Linked DNA regions of Homo sapiens. The protein of the gene in region 1 purifies or fractionates together with the protein of each later gene. This does not show direct contact. Each region holds a gene or a part of one and is shown on either strand. Other genes may lie near its edges.

Region 1 (7,315 bases):
TTCTCTGCAGGCTGTGCCAAGATAACAATGAGAGAGACACATGCCTGCCAGAATGGGAGGCCCGAGCTGAGCATTGAGGATAAGCCCATGGACCACAAGCTGCATGCTCTGCTGTTTTATTTATGATTTCTCCTAATAACTGTGGAAGATTTTTGTGCATTTGTCATCATGCAAATGAAAGCATGATTGCCAATGCACACAAAGTTATTAACATCTAAACAATAGTCTCTACTAACAGGAATGGAATTAGAAGAATAAGGTAAGTGGCAGGGGCAGGGGGACTGAAAAAGAATAAATTAAAAAAAAATCAAATGAAGGAAATTAGAACTGGTATAATAGGAAAGAAATGGAAACAACCTAATGTCCAAAAACATAGGAATGTTCAATAATTTCCACATTTCCATAAGCCAGAATTCCAAGCAGCTATTAAAAGAGTTTTGGAAGAGGTTGGGTGCGGAAGCTCACGCCTGTAATCCCAGCACTTTGGGAGGCCGAGGCGGGCAGATCACCTGAGGTCAGGAGTTCGAGACCAGCCTGGCCAACATGGTGAAACCCCGTCTCTACTAAAATACAAAAATTAGCTGGGCAGGTGCCTGTAATCCCAGCTACTCGTGAGGCTGAGGCAGGAGAATTGCTCAAACCCAGGAGGGGGAGGTTGCAGTGAGCTGAGATCACGCCACTGCACTCCAGCCTGGGCGACAAGAGCAAAACTCTGTCTGAAGAAAAAAAAAAAGTGTTTTGGAAGAATATGTAATGATATGGAAAGCACTCATGATAAAAGAGTAACTGAAAAATGTATGATAAAAAATCGTATGTGAATATGTCATAGCTTTAACATTATTTAAAATTATATAGGTAAAAGACTGAAAAGGTATATACTGATATACTAAGAAAAGTTTTCCCTGGATGTTGGAATTAGAGGCAATTGTTAGTCTCTTTTGCCTAGGTTTCTAAATTTCATGAGTTACTTTTATATCAGATAAACCATTTTCAAGACACCTACGAGGTTAGTGGAAAAGTAATTATGGTTTTTGCCATTACTTTCACAACAAAGGATCTGACAGGAGGACAGTATGGACAGGGGAGAAGGCGTGTTGGGAACCATATGGAAGCCTGTGCGCCTCACAGGGAAACTGTCAGGAGCCGGGGAGCCACGCCGCGCGTGGGAAGCGGGGGCTCATGCGTGGTGCCATGATCCGCCCCGCGCTGGGGAGAACATGAGGACTAGAACTCAGAGTTCATGCCCCCAACTTTGACCTCTTTCTACTTTATATTAGAAGCATATTGTGTGTTTAGAATGAACAGTGATTCAACTTGAATGTGTACTGCTGAAAATTTCAAAGGACATTTTAATAAAGGAAGGAAGAAACAAAGGATGGAGAGAAAGAAAAAATGTAAATATAGTCACGTGTCGCTCAGAGACAGGAATACATTCCGAGAAACACATCTTAAGGCAACTTCTATGTGGGAACATCATAGAGCATCCTTGCACGAACACAGATGGTAGAGCCGACTACATCCCTGAGCTCCATGGTCCAGCCTTTTGCTCCTAGGCTACAAACCTGTGCAGCACGTGACTGTCCTGAATGTTGCAGGCAGTTGTCACACGATGGTAAGTATTTGTGCATCTAAACATAGCTAAACATAGAAATCATGCAGTAAAAATACAGTATAAAGATAAAAAATGGGCCGGGCACAGTGGCTCATGCCTGTAAATCCCAGCACTTTGGGAGGCTGAGGCTGGCGGATCGCTGGAGGTCGGGAGTTTGAGACCAGCCTGACCAACATGGTGAAACCCCGTCTCTACTAAAAATACAAAAATTAGCTAGGCATAGTGGTGCACACCTGTAATCCCAGCTACTCGGGAGGCTGAGACAGGAGAATTGCTTGAACTCGGGAGGCAGAGGTTGCAGTGAGCCAAGATCGCACTATTGCACTCCAGCTCTGGGCTACAGAGTGAGACTCCATCTCAAAAAAATAAAAAATAAAAAACCAAGATACAAAATGGTAGACCTGTCTAGGGCACTCACCATGAGTGGAGCTTGCAGGACTGGGAGTTGCTCTGGGTGAGTCAGTGAGTGAGTAGTGAGTGAATGTGAAGAACTAGGACATTACCGTACACAACTACAGACTTTACGGATACACTTAGGCTACACTAAATGCATTTGAAAAATAAAGTAACTGTGCTATGACGTCACTAGGCAGTAGGAATTTTTCAGCTCCATTACAATCTTATGGGACCACAGTGGTCTATATCGTCCGTTGTTGACCCAAACATCGTGAAGCCAAGCATAACATGGCTGTATTAGGAAACACTCAGATTCTGCTCCGGGAAGACAACGAAGCTGTGGGCAAGTGCCCACCCCTCTATCAATATCAGCATCTCGGAGCACCACGCTCTCAGAGCCAGTGGCCCGCATCCCCCGCTCCACCCACAGATCCACTCCCTCTGCAGCAGCTGCAGCAGGGGACCCCCAGCCCGGAGCGACCCCGGCACCGCCCAGCCAGAAGGGGAGAGGGGAGACTGACCATGACGATCTCCAGCACTTCATTCTTGCTGATGGTCCCGTTACCGTCCACGTCGTAGAGGGAGAAGGCCCACTCCAGCTTCTGGTTGGTCTTGCCCGCGGTGGTCATGTGCAGGGCGATGACGTACTCCTTGAAGTCCAGGGTGCCGTCGAGGTTGGAATCGAAGCTGCGGAACACATGCTGGGCGTAGGCCTTGGGGTCGGTGTCGGGGAAGAACTTGGCGTAGATGCTCTGGAACTGCTGCTGGGTGATGCGGCCGGTGGGACAGTCCTTCAGGAAGGACTGGTACCAGGAGCACAGCTCCTCCTCCGAGAACTTGGTGTTCAGCTGCAGCTCCTCCAGGATCTCCTTGGACAGGGCCCCACTTTTGCTGTTCCCCATGAGTGAGGAAGAGTGGGCAGCGGCTGGGGAGTCGCTGGGTGGGTGGGACGTGCGTGGTCCCCTGGCCGCAGGCTGGGCTCAAGGCTGGTGTGAGCTGAAGACCGAGATGCTGGTGGCTTAGGAGGATTTGCGACCAGTTCTTCGCAATCCTTGAAGGGAGGAGGGGCCCAGGAGCTTTGTGGAGGGCGGGAGCGGTGGGGGGGGGTGCTCCCAGAACCCTAGTGAGATTAAAATAAAGAGCCCAGGGCAGGCAGGCAATTCATCTCGGCCTCCCGGGACGATACTAGAACAGGACAGGAGGTTGGAACCCTCAGAGCTGGGGCCTCCGGCACCCCCAGCCCCAGCCCTCTAACAGCAGCCATGTTCCCTGTTTCTCTTCCTCACTAACTCTGAGCATCTCGGGGCGGGGCTGGCATCTCATATCAAGCCCTAGAATGCAATGGTTAGGAGCACAGACTCTGGGGCCAGCATGGGTTCAAGTCCCAGCTTGGCTACTTAACTAGCTGTGTGGCCCCAGGCTTGTTTCTTCACCTCTTTCCACCTGGGACACTCTTCTAAACCTTCACTGCAGTCATGTCTCTGCTTAAATGTCACCTGCTCAGCCAGGCCTATACTGACCCTCTATCTATAATAGCACAACCCCCACCATCATCGGCACGCTGCATGTCCCCTCACCGGAATGAAAGCTCCGTGAAGGATGGGATTTTGTCTGTGTTGTTCCCGGATGCATTTCCATTGCCAGAACCTGATAGGCTTGGGCCCCCAGCAAGTCTTTCTTGAATAAATGGGCATCATAGCATCTACCACACTGTCATTGTGAGGCTGATGTGAGTCAATATGTCTGACACACTTAGAAACTGGCACATGGCTAATGCTAAACACTCGTTTTGTTATTGTCCATCAGTCACAGGGAGTGAAGGTGAACTGCCTGAAGGGACCAGCAGGGGGCAGCCAGGCCTGTGTCACCTCGGGAAGGGGCTGCCAGAGAACGTGGTCACATGGGATGGTGAGATTTTTGGGTTTTTTTAAATTATTCAAGAGAAATCCAAAAATCAGAATTTTTCTTGCAATTTCCACACTTTTCAACTTTGGCAATTAATTCAAAATTTTAATGGTGGCTCACGTCTGTAATCCCAGCACTTTGGGAGACTGAGTGGGGAGATTACAAGGTTAGGAGTTCGAGACCAGCCTGGCCAACATGGTGAAACCCTGTCTCTACTAAAAATACAAAAAATTAGCCGGGCATGGTGGCAGGTGACTGTAATCCCAGCTACTTGGGAGGCTGAGGCTGGAGAATCGCTTGAACCCGGGAGGCAGAGGTTGCAGTGAGCCGAGATTGCACCATTGCACTCCAGCCTGGGTGACAAGTGTGAGACTCCATCTCAAAAAAACAAAACAAAAACAAAAACAAAAACAAAACAAAACATGGTGTGGGCCAAACACAATCTATCTGTGGGTCCATGGCAGGCTGCAGGGTGTCCGTCTGCAGTGGACTTGGAGTGAGCAGGCAAGAAAACGTGTTTGCTGAGTGAATGGATAAATAACTGAGTGGTCAGAGACGGAGCTGTGCAAAGGCAGGCTTCGCGTCTGTGCAGCTCAGCGGGGAGTATCAAGCACGAGGAAGCAACCTAGTGAGGACGCTGCACACCTGGATTCTTGTCACCCAGAAGGAAGGGAGGGTGGGCGTGCACTTTCCTTAGCGGAGCGCAGTGCTCGAGGGGACACACTCAGAACCCCAGCCTTGCCACCGTGGATGGAGAGTTGTCTCTTTTTGCCCTGGGGTGAGAATGATGAAGAATAAACCCCACGGTCTCCAGGCAGGTAAACTGGTTTTTTTTTAGACGGAGTCTCCCTCTGTCACTTAGGCTGGGCACGATCTTGGCTCACTGCAACCTCCGCCTCCTGGTTTCAAGCAATTCTCCTGTCTCAGTCCCCTGAGAAGCTGGGACTACAGGTGTCTGCCACCACGCCCAGCTAATTTTTTTTTGGTATTTTTAGTAGAGTCGAGGTTTCACCATATTGGTCAGGCTGGTCTCGTAAACTCCTGACCTCAGGTGATCCGCCCGCCTTGCATCTCAAAGTGTAAAGTGGGGATTTTAGCCTACTTACTAACAGGCTAGTGGCAGCAGAAGGTAGGTCCCTGCTGCTGGGAGAAAGCCACCTGCCAGGCCCACCTCATGTCACTCTGGAAGGACCGAGAGGTTCAGGCACCAAGGGGCAGACTCATCCCTCCCAGCCGCTCTGCCCAGTACAGTTTCAGAGATTTCTCAGGAAACCTGCATATTGGGGTGTGTGTGTGAACTTTCTAATTTTTTTCCATCACTTTGTGAGTTTTTTTTTTTTTGTTTGTTTGTTTTTTTTGTTTTTTTTTTTTTAAGACAGAGCCTCATTCTGCGCCCAGGCTGGAGTGCAATGGCACGATCTCGGCTCACTGCAACCTCTGCCTCCCAGGTTCAAGCGATTTTCCTGCCTCAGCCTCCCAAGTAGCTGGGATTACAGGCGCTCACCACCATGCCCAGCTAATTTTTGTGTTTTTAGCAGAGATGGGATTTCACCTTGTTGGTCAGGCCGGTCTCGATCCCCTGACCTCATGATCTGCCTGCTTTGGCCTCCCCAAGTGCTGGGATTACAGGCATGAGCCACTGCGCCCAGTGAGAATATTACTTCTGAATAGGAGTCCTTCCTCTCCTAGGCTTTCACCATCCTGTAGCGTGCATTTATTCTCAAGAGCAGTTAGAAACAGGACAGTCACTAGCCTTGAAAACAAACGGGAGCCCAAGCCACACCCTGGAATCGCATTCATTCCAGAGCTTCCTTGCAGCCCTGGGGATGGAGGGAGAGTGAGGTCAGAGGCCTCGGCCCCTTGCTCTGAGCCACTAGTAGGGGGCGACTGGAAGTGCCTCCTGGATCGCACCCCTGTCCACATCAAGCCTGCAGCAGATGAGGCGAAGCCAGTGTTACAAGTGAGAAGTGGGGCCTCCTAAAGGCATGTCACCAGCCTGGGGTCACATGGTTGCTAAATGGCAATGCCAGAAGGAAGGAAAGTCCAGGTCTGCCAGCCTGTCCATTTAGGCTTCCTTTGTCTACGTCACAGGAGGCCTGAGCCTAGAGGACAAGTAGGTGAGGAGGTGGGGTTACCATGTCAATGAAAGAGGCCCTGGGCGAGGCAGAAGGCAGCCAGAGCCCTCCAGTCTTTGCTGTCCTCTCCAGGCACAAGGAGGAAGGAGCTGGACCCAGGTCGGAAGCAGCCTGGTACAGTCCACATTCTCCAGGTTGCTGTGCCCAGGAGGGGCCCCAGGGGACCGCAGGCAGCTGTGTTGATGCTGAGAGTGAGGGGTCATGACCTGGAGGTTTGTTTGAAAACCTGCATAAACATCTTCTATCAGAGGGAGAGCTTATGCTCCTTAGCCAAACAAGTTGTTGGAGATGATGTATTGTGAGTCGATTTGTTAAGTCTGAGCTGGGGCCATAAACTCTCCCAAAACCCAAAGACTGCTCTAGAGGAGAAGGCTTCATCTCCAGGCAGAGGATCCCAGTTTTGGTCTCGCTCTCCTCGCTGGACTGAAAGATGCTTCCCAGAAGCTGGCCCTGTCCCCTCAAGCAGGAGCTCCATCTTGGCCATTAGCTGGGACCCAGACGCCACCCCTTCCCCATTGCTCGACCTTGCCTGCTATGAGCTGAAGGCCAAGACGACCCTCCTGCCCTCTGGCCTGGAGCCAGCACCTGCAGAGAAGTCCGCATTGAGAGGGAAAAGGGGGTATGGAGAAGGTGGCGGGGGAGACAGAGAATGGGGAAGGACCCTCCTCCCACAGCTGTCCCCATTGCAGAAAATGACAATCCATCCTTTTGATGACTTGGATTGAGGTCCTTGGCATCATTCTCAGTGTTTCTCTTTCGGTCACAACCCACTCCAATCTATCAAGAAATCATCTTGACTCTACCTTCAAGGTACATCCAGAACCAGACCGTTCTTCCCGCCTCCCTTGCACCTGCCTTGTGCAGGCAGCATCACCGCTGCCTCCTAACAGCTCTTCCTGCTTCTGCTCTTGTCCCCTTACAGCCCCGCAGTGAGCCCCATGGCCATGAAATCAGGTCATGCACTATGGCTGCCCACTTCTCCCAGTCCAAGCCAAAAGCCTGCAGCAGGCAGCACTGGCCCTCATCCCACCATTTCTCGCAAGTGGCCTCTGGCACCTCCAAGAACGGATGAAAGGGGGCGGATGCCTTTTGTCTCTCTGCTAAGTCATCAGAGGTAAAATCACCACCAATCCCAAGAACCTGGGGGAAACGCTGAGACGGGTCGTTCAAAGAATGTGACAGCCCTCCAGGAAAGAGGGTTGCCCAGCGTCCTCATCTTCTCTTCCCTCCTCACTCCCTCCACTCCAGCCAGGCTGGCCTCAGACAC
Region 2 (7,065 bases), on another chromosome or scaffold:
GGAGGTCGAGGCAGTCAGCTGGCTTGAGCTCAGGAGTTCAAGACCAGCCAGGGCAACATGGCAAAATCCGATCTCTACAAAAACTACAAAAATTAGCCAGGGGTGGTGGCATGCGCCTTTGGTCCCAGCTACTCGGGAGGCTAAGACCAGATAATCACTTGAACCCAGGATGTCAAGGCTGCAGCAAGCCGAGGTCCCGCCACTGCACTACAGCCTGGATGACAGAGCATGACCCTGTCTCAAAAATAAATAAAAGAATCTCAGGTAATTAAAACAGGTAAGCAATCCAGAAGTAATTAGGCAATCCTCCTTATTCACAAATCCTGTATCTGAATTCACCTACTCACTAAAACTCACTTGTAATCCCAAATCAATGCTTGCTGCATTTCTGCAGTCATTCATGGACATACTCATATGAACAGTAGTAAAAAATGTGAGTTGTAGGCCTGGCACAGTGGCTCATGCCTGTAATCCCAGCACTTTGGGAGGCCAAGGCGGGTTGATCACCTGAGGTCAGGAGTTCCAGATCAGCCTGGCCAACATGGCGAAACGTAGTATCTACTAAAAATATAAAAATTAGCTGGGCATGGGGGCACATGCCTGTAGTCTCAGCTACTCAGGAGGCTGAGGCATGAGAATTGCTTGAACCTGGAGGCGGAGGTTGCGATGAGCAGAGATCACACCATTGCACTCCAGCCTGGCTGACAGAGTAAGACTCCGTCTCAAAAAAAAAAAAAAAAAAAAAAGTGAGTTGTGCAACTCACACACTGGCAGCTGAGGTAGAACATGCCATCTTGTTTCAGTCCTCGTAATATGAAAAAGTGTCCTTTTCACAGTCTCATCTATTTAAAGCATTTTTGTGATTTTTGTTGGTGATCGTGCTGTTTAAAATGACCAAGTTCAAGTGCTGGCTAGTCTTCCTAAGTGCAAGAAGGCTATGACATGCCTTACAGAGAAAATATGTGTGTTAGGTAAGTTTTCCCTCTATAATATCCTATCTACCGATACAAATAAACTTAGGAAAAATATACTGCTATGTAATTTCAACTATCTATTAGTTATAAAGTAGTATCAACTGGCTGCCCTAAATTAAGTCTCAAGATACAAAGGCAGTGTTCCTAAAGTCAAATTCTGATTCCCTCTTCAGAAGTATTCTGACCCACTTTAAAATCCTCCAGCTTTAGTATAAAGAATAAAACAAAGGAATAACACAAACCAAATGGCCTGTATTAGTATTAAATTCAATTTCACCAGTCTTTGGCATGCATATAACCTAAAAAGCATGGGAAATTATTATTTATGAGTCTTGAAATAACCACCAGGCAAAATAAATATTTCTTAAGTGTCAACTTTGTATAGGTACTGAACAGTCTGCAAATCTGTATCATCACACTCTAATTTTTGACATTAAGAAAAGGTGTATCTCTTTAAGAAAAAAAATCTTAAGAAATAAAAACTGGGTTCATAAGTTTAGATAAGTAGATTTTTCTTATAACAGAGTCGTGTAGTTAAGTTTTGAGATGCCACTAGGTCTATTTGTCCTTCACTTTGATGTGTCCTAATACTCCATAATTAAAGGACCAAGTATCCCCAATATATAGAGGCAGGTATTACCATAACTAAATTTCCTTCCAAATTAGTTGACAACGTGAGAGATACATGGATTCCAAATAGGCTTTTTATTCTTTAAGAAACACAATTTTAATGTCATTCATTAATAACACTCACTCGTCTGAGTCACACAATCATTCCAGGTTTGTCCTTTTTCCCTATTAAGAGCAGGGCAAAATTATCTCACCAGGATTATGAATTACCACCATCACCACAGGGGTCTCCCAGTCATTCAAGAGACAAACTTTATGAGGCTAGTCATCTCCAACTTATCTTTCTGGCTTCTTAGAACTGTATATGTACAGAATACAATACATTATCAAAACTTGATGGGAAAAAAAGACAATTCAGCAAAGGGACTGCAACATTTTAAAAAGCCAGGAGAAAAAAGAAGGAAAAATACTTCTAGGGGAAAGGAATCAGGCCTGAAAATTGATGTCTGTGTGGTTTCTAAGGAAACAAACAAGATTCACCTTCCAGATTATTCCTAAAGAATTCCAGGTGCTGTTCTCATTTACTCTAACAATTTGGCAAGGTAAGTTATCTATTTTGACCCATAAGGAAACACACTACTCGCATCCTTCTCTGGTTATCTCAGATACGGCTCACACGTTAAGTTTCAGCCAACTTCCAATTAAATTAAGCTTATTTTTACTCGGGTTCTTCCAAAGGGACCCAAAAGATATACATTCCCTGAGCACCTTAATCTTTGAAAAACAGTTTGCTATAGACCAAATTCAATCCCAAATTCACCTCTACCTCAAGTTAATAAAGAAGGTATTTATACTGGCGATTGAACTTAGTTCTGTAACTGCAAAATGTCAAAGATAAAGACCATCTCACGAGTTATGAGGATTAAGTTCAAAGTGCCAAATAAGCGCCACACATAAGGCTGAGTGACCAAAGGCGTGCATTGCACTTAGCCCAGTACTTGGTACAAAATGCACACTTAATAAATGCCAACTTATACTGTGACTACTATTCGAAAGAATCTGAATAGAGCTGGGCAAAGGAGAGCACCCAGCTTCCCACGCTCCATCCTCACATACCCACCCAAAATATAATAAGTGGGCTTCCCCGCATCCCTAGCGCCTGCGCACCCTCCCTGCCGTAGGGCTTCGCCCTCGGTATCCTGACCCCTTCCTGATATCACCCGGTCCCATCCTCACCAGCCTCCCCGCCACCAAGCAGCCAAACATGGCGACGGCAGCTCCGTTCAGCCGGCAGTGACCTGAAGCCGGCGACTAGGAGTCCTGGGGCTACTGCCCTAGTCGAGACTAAGAACCTTCCAGAATTTGCGGGAGGGTGTCTGCCCCTCCACTACATAGTGACTGGGCCAGCGGCAAGAATGCCTCTGCCCCCGCGAACTCTGACCTTCTCTTCCTAAGCAGCCCACTGCTCAGGCAACAAGTACTTCCGGGGCTTACACCCGGTTTTCCCCACTAAGGAAGAAAGGCGGGCCAGCGCCAGTACAAGACTACAAGTCCCAGAACAAGTCCCAGAGGGCACCGCGCCAGTTTCCGGGAAGGTAAGCCTGGAGGCTTTGCACACTGGGATCGGTAGTCCGGGTGTTTTATAGCCACAAAATCTGTGGATCCTTCATTTCCATGTACAATCCTGGGAAGAGATGCTTCTAACGTTTCTGTGACATCTGAGAGATTAACGGTGCACTTTTACAATAATCACGTCACTAGATCTTTACAAAAACCCTATGAGGTAAGTATTATAATCCAAATTTTATAGGAGTGATCAGCCTCAAATCTTTACACAGCAGTAAATGTTGGAGGCTGAATTCAAGTCCTAATCCAAATCCGGGTTTCTTTCTGCTACACAGTGTCTCAGAAGTATTAATCTTTAACCAATTGTTTTGTACTTGTCTACAATTTATAGTAGTTCTTTCCAGCTTCACTTAGTTCTCCCATTCATTTGCTGTACAATTGTGGACGAGTTGTAGATGTCTTTGTGCTTCAGTGCCCCTCCTTTGCAAAAGACAAATAATGAGCCTATTGCCTAGGGTTGCTGTGAGGATTAAATGAGCTAATATGTATAAAACACTTAAAACAGTGCTTGGCTGTGCTTAATTAGTGGGAGTTTTATTGTAAAAATGTCTATTTTTTTTCTATGTGGATCTGCAGAAAAGTTTCATAGGAAATACAAAACAATAGCCAAAAAAAAAAAAAAAAATACTGGCATTAAGTACCGATTGCCACCAATACTTATTCTCCCTTTCACAGCTCCAATTCCTTTTCTTCTTGAATAGGATAGTAAAGGGTCTCTGTCCAATTTGAAATATCTGAGCTTGGCCACCAGCCGTAAAGCAGGTCTGTCTTCCCAGTTCTCAGTTTATATATGGGGGATCAGTGTTTGGAACAGTCCTCTGGCCTCCACTGTGGATCCCTAAACTGATCACCTATCTTATCACCGATACTCCTTTGAGATAGCTGTGCCAAAGGTGAAGAGGTAGGAAAGGATCTACCAATGTTTCCAACTTACTATCTAAAAAGTCCTAGAACCTTCAGAATAAAAAGGCCATTCATATGAAGACCACTTCATAAATTAAGGCACCCACACTACCTGGGTTCAGAGCCCATCTCTGCCATTTATTAGTTACATAATCTCAGGCAAGTTAACCTAACACTCCCATACCTCCTTTTCCCCATCTTTAAAATGAAGTAATAGTAGTATCTACCTCATAAAGTTGTTTTGAGGGTTCTTACACGTAAAGTACTCAATAGTGGCCAGAATGTAGCTTACTCAATAAATGTTAATATTTAGCATTATTGCCTTTCCTAACTAATTTTCCATGTCTTCTTCATACCCACCTTGTGCACTAGCCATACTTTTGAATTCTCTGAGCAACTCCTACTTTTAAATTTGTATGTGCTTATGCAACTTGTTTTATCTCCCTGTAATATTCACTTGGTTATTTCTTACACATCCTCTCACTTTTCTTCACTAACCTTTCTATGACCCACCTGATAGTCATTTCTTCTCCTACCCAGCAATCTTATATTTAGTGGATTGAGAACTAGCTAGCTTAGAATTTTTTTTATAAATTACAGATGATGTTTATTAATTGTCTCAATCTCTGTTATGTGAGATATGAGCTTTTTCTCCATTTTGCTGGTCAACTGTCTTAGTTATAGATTGTACAAAGAGTTAGAGGCAGTGAGTACAGTATCATATCTCTAGAGTAGCCAGTATTCCAGCTACCAAACTATATTATTTGTACATACAGTAGTTCTTTGTAACTTCTGCGGGCAGAACTAGATACAGTGTGAGGAAGTGAAAAAATGTTTCAGGGAAAAAAATCTTTCCAATAATCAGAGCTCTCTGAAATAAGAATAGATAGTCATGGAATAGAGTGAATGCTCCTATTCACATTGATATTGTAACCAATGCTGAAATCCACTTACATTGTTGAGGAGACTTACGGAAAATTGGGGAAATTGGCTGAAAACCTCAGAGGTACTCCCCCCCATCTCAAACTATATGATTCTATGGAGTAAGAACCAGTTATAGTTTAATTGTGGCCAGGGTATCAGGGATTCTGAATCCTGGTGTTAGCTCTTCATTAATTAACCTAATGATGAGATCATTTATTTTATCATTTTGGCCATTATGTTTCTTCCAATTCTAGGTTGAATTCTGACTTGAAGAGAGCAAAAAAATATTTTTTCTCTTCTCTGAAAAATTTTTCTTTACAAAACAAGGAGAACAACAAATAGACACACAAACTCTGTCTTCCCTGAACTGGGAGATATCTGTAACCCCAAGTCACAACAGATATCAATGGAAAGTAGATAAAAGAAAGGCAAATGACTTAGCAGAGGCGTGGAAGATCAAACTCAGGTACTACAGAGAAAGATAAATATCAGAGAAGCTCAGGAACTGGAGATATCAGGGGCCACAGAATGCAAGGGTAAGACAGGTAGATTGCTTAAAATCAGTGTTAAGATGTTTATATCTGTTCCTCATCCACACCTTGCAAAAGGCCACTGGTATGAAATCTCTGTGGAAAAAAATTAAATCAGAGGCACCCTGGGTACTAGGAAACCATATACTGAAAAAAAGTGGTTGTAAATTAAGGCCACCATGTACAGATTCGGTCCTAAATAAGGACACCCAAATGAGAGAGGAGTCCTTGGTCACCAAGTCAAACATATCCCAGACTATGTCCACCCAAAGAGGGGTGGCTTTTTCTGAAGCATCCACGTGAGAGTGCTTTGTACTATATCATCCATGCAGAGATAGCTCTTTTTTACATCCCTCATCCATAGGGGAAAAGGGTCACGTTTTAAGAATTGATGGAAAAATCCAACACTCTTTTCATGATAAAAACAGTCAACAAACTAGGAATAGAAGAGAACTTCCTCAACCTGATGAAGAACATCTACAAAAACTCCGCAGCTAACCTCATACTTAATGGTGAAAGATCAGGAACAAGACAAAGGTGTCTTTTATAGCTGCTTGTACTCAACATTGCACTGGAAGTTCCAGCCAAGGCAATTAGGCAAGATAAATAAAACTGGAAATGAAAAAGTAAAACAATCTCTAGTCACAGATGACATGATCTTTTTATTTTTTATTTTTTTTGAGACTGAGACAGAGTCTCACTCTGTTGCCCAGTCTGGAGTGCAGTGGCGATCTCAGCTCACTGCAATCTCCACCTCCCAGGGTCAAGCGATTCTCCTGCCTTAGCCTCCCAAGTAGCTGGAACTACAGGCATGCACCACCATGCCTGGCTAATTTTTGTATTTTTTGGTAGAGATGGGGTTTCACCATGTTGGCAAGGCTGGTCTCGAACTCCTGACCTCAGGTGATCCACCCAACTCATCCTCCCAAAGTGCTAGGGTTACAGGTGTCAGCCAACACGCCTGGCCAACATGATCTTGTATATAGAAAATCCTAAGGGATCCACTAAAAACCTATTAGAACTAATAAACAATTTCAGCAAGATTGAAGGATACAAGGTCAATATACAAAAATAAATTGTGTTGCTATACACTTGCAGTGAACAATCCAAAAATGAAATTAAGAAGATAATTTCATTTAAAATTCTCATTTAACAAAAGAAGTATAAAGTATATACTCTGAAAACTACAAAAAATTGTTGTAAGAAATTGATCTGGCTTGGACATTTGTCTCCTCCAAATCTCATGCTGAAATGTGAACTTAATTGTTGGAGGTTGGCCTAGTGGGAGGTGTTTGGAGCATGGGGGCAGATCCCTCGTGAATGGCTTGGTGCTATCCTTGCAGTAATGAGTTCTCACTGTATTATTTCATTCAAGAGCTGATTGTTTAAAAAAATAAAAAATAAAGAGCCTGGCATCTCCCTTGCTCCCTCTCGCCATGTGATATGCCTGCTCCCCCTTCCGCTTCCGTCATGATTGTAAGCTTCCTGAGGCCCTTACCAGAAGCTGGACATATATTGCTGCCATGCTGGTACAGCCT

What was found.
Region 2: the proteins of RCVRN (region 1) and HIKESHI purify together in Homo sapiens (affinity purification with mass spectrometry; 2 studies listed by BioGRID and IntAct, with this or other methods). This does not show direct contact.

Annotation. Positions count from the first base shown.
Region 1 is NC_000017.11:9,902,271-9,909,585, forward strand, and holds the start of RCVRN (recoverin), read right to left. Parts: upstream 3,002-7,315; 5' UTR 2,911-3,001; coding exon 2,530-2,910; intron 1-2,529. UniProt on the Homo sapiens protein: Acts as a calcium sensor and regulates phototransduction of cone and rod photoreceptor cells. Modulates light sensitivity of cone photoreceptor in dark and dim conditions.
Region 2 is NC_000011.10:86,298,194-86,305,258, reverse strand, and holds the start of HIKESHI (protein Hikeshi), read right to left. Parts: upstream 3,020-7,065; 5' UTR 2,811-3,019; coding exon 2,781-2,810; intron 1,903-2,780; exon of another isoform or gene 1,729-1,902; intron 1-1,728. UniProt on the Homo sapiens protein: Acts as a specific nuclear import carrier for HSP70 proteins following heat-shock stress: acts by mediating the nucleoporin-dependent translocation of ATP-bound HSP70 proteins into the nucleus.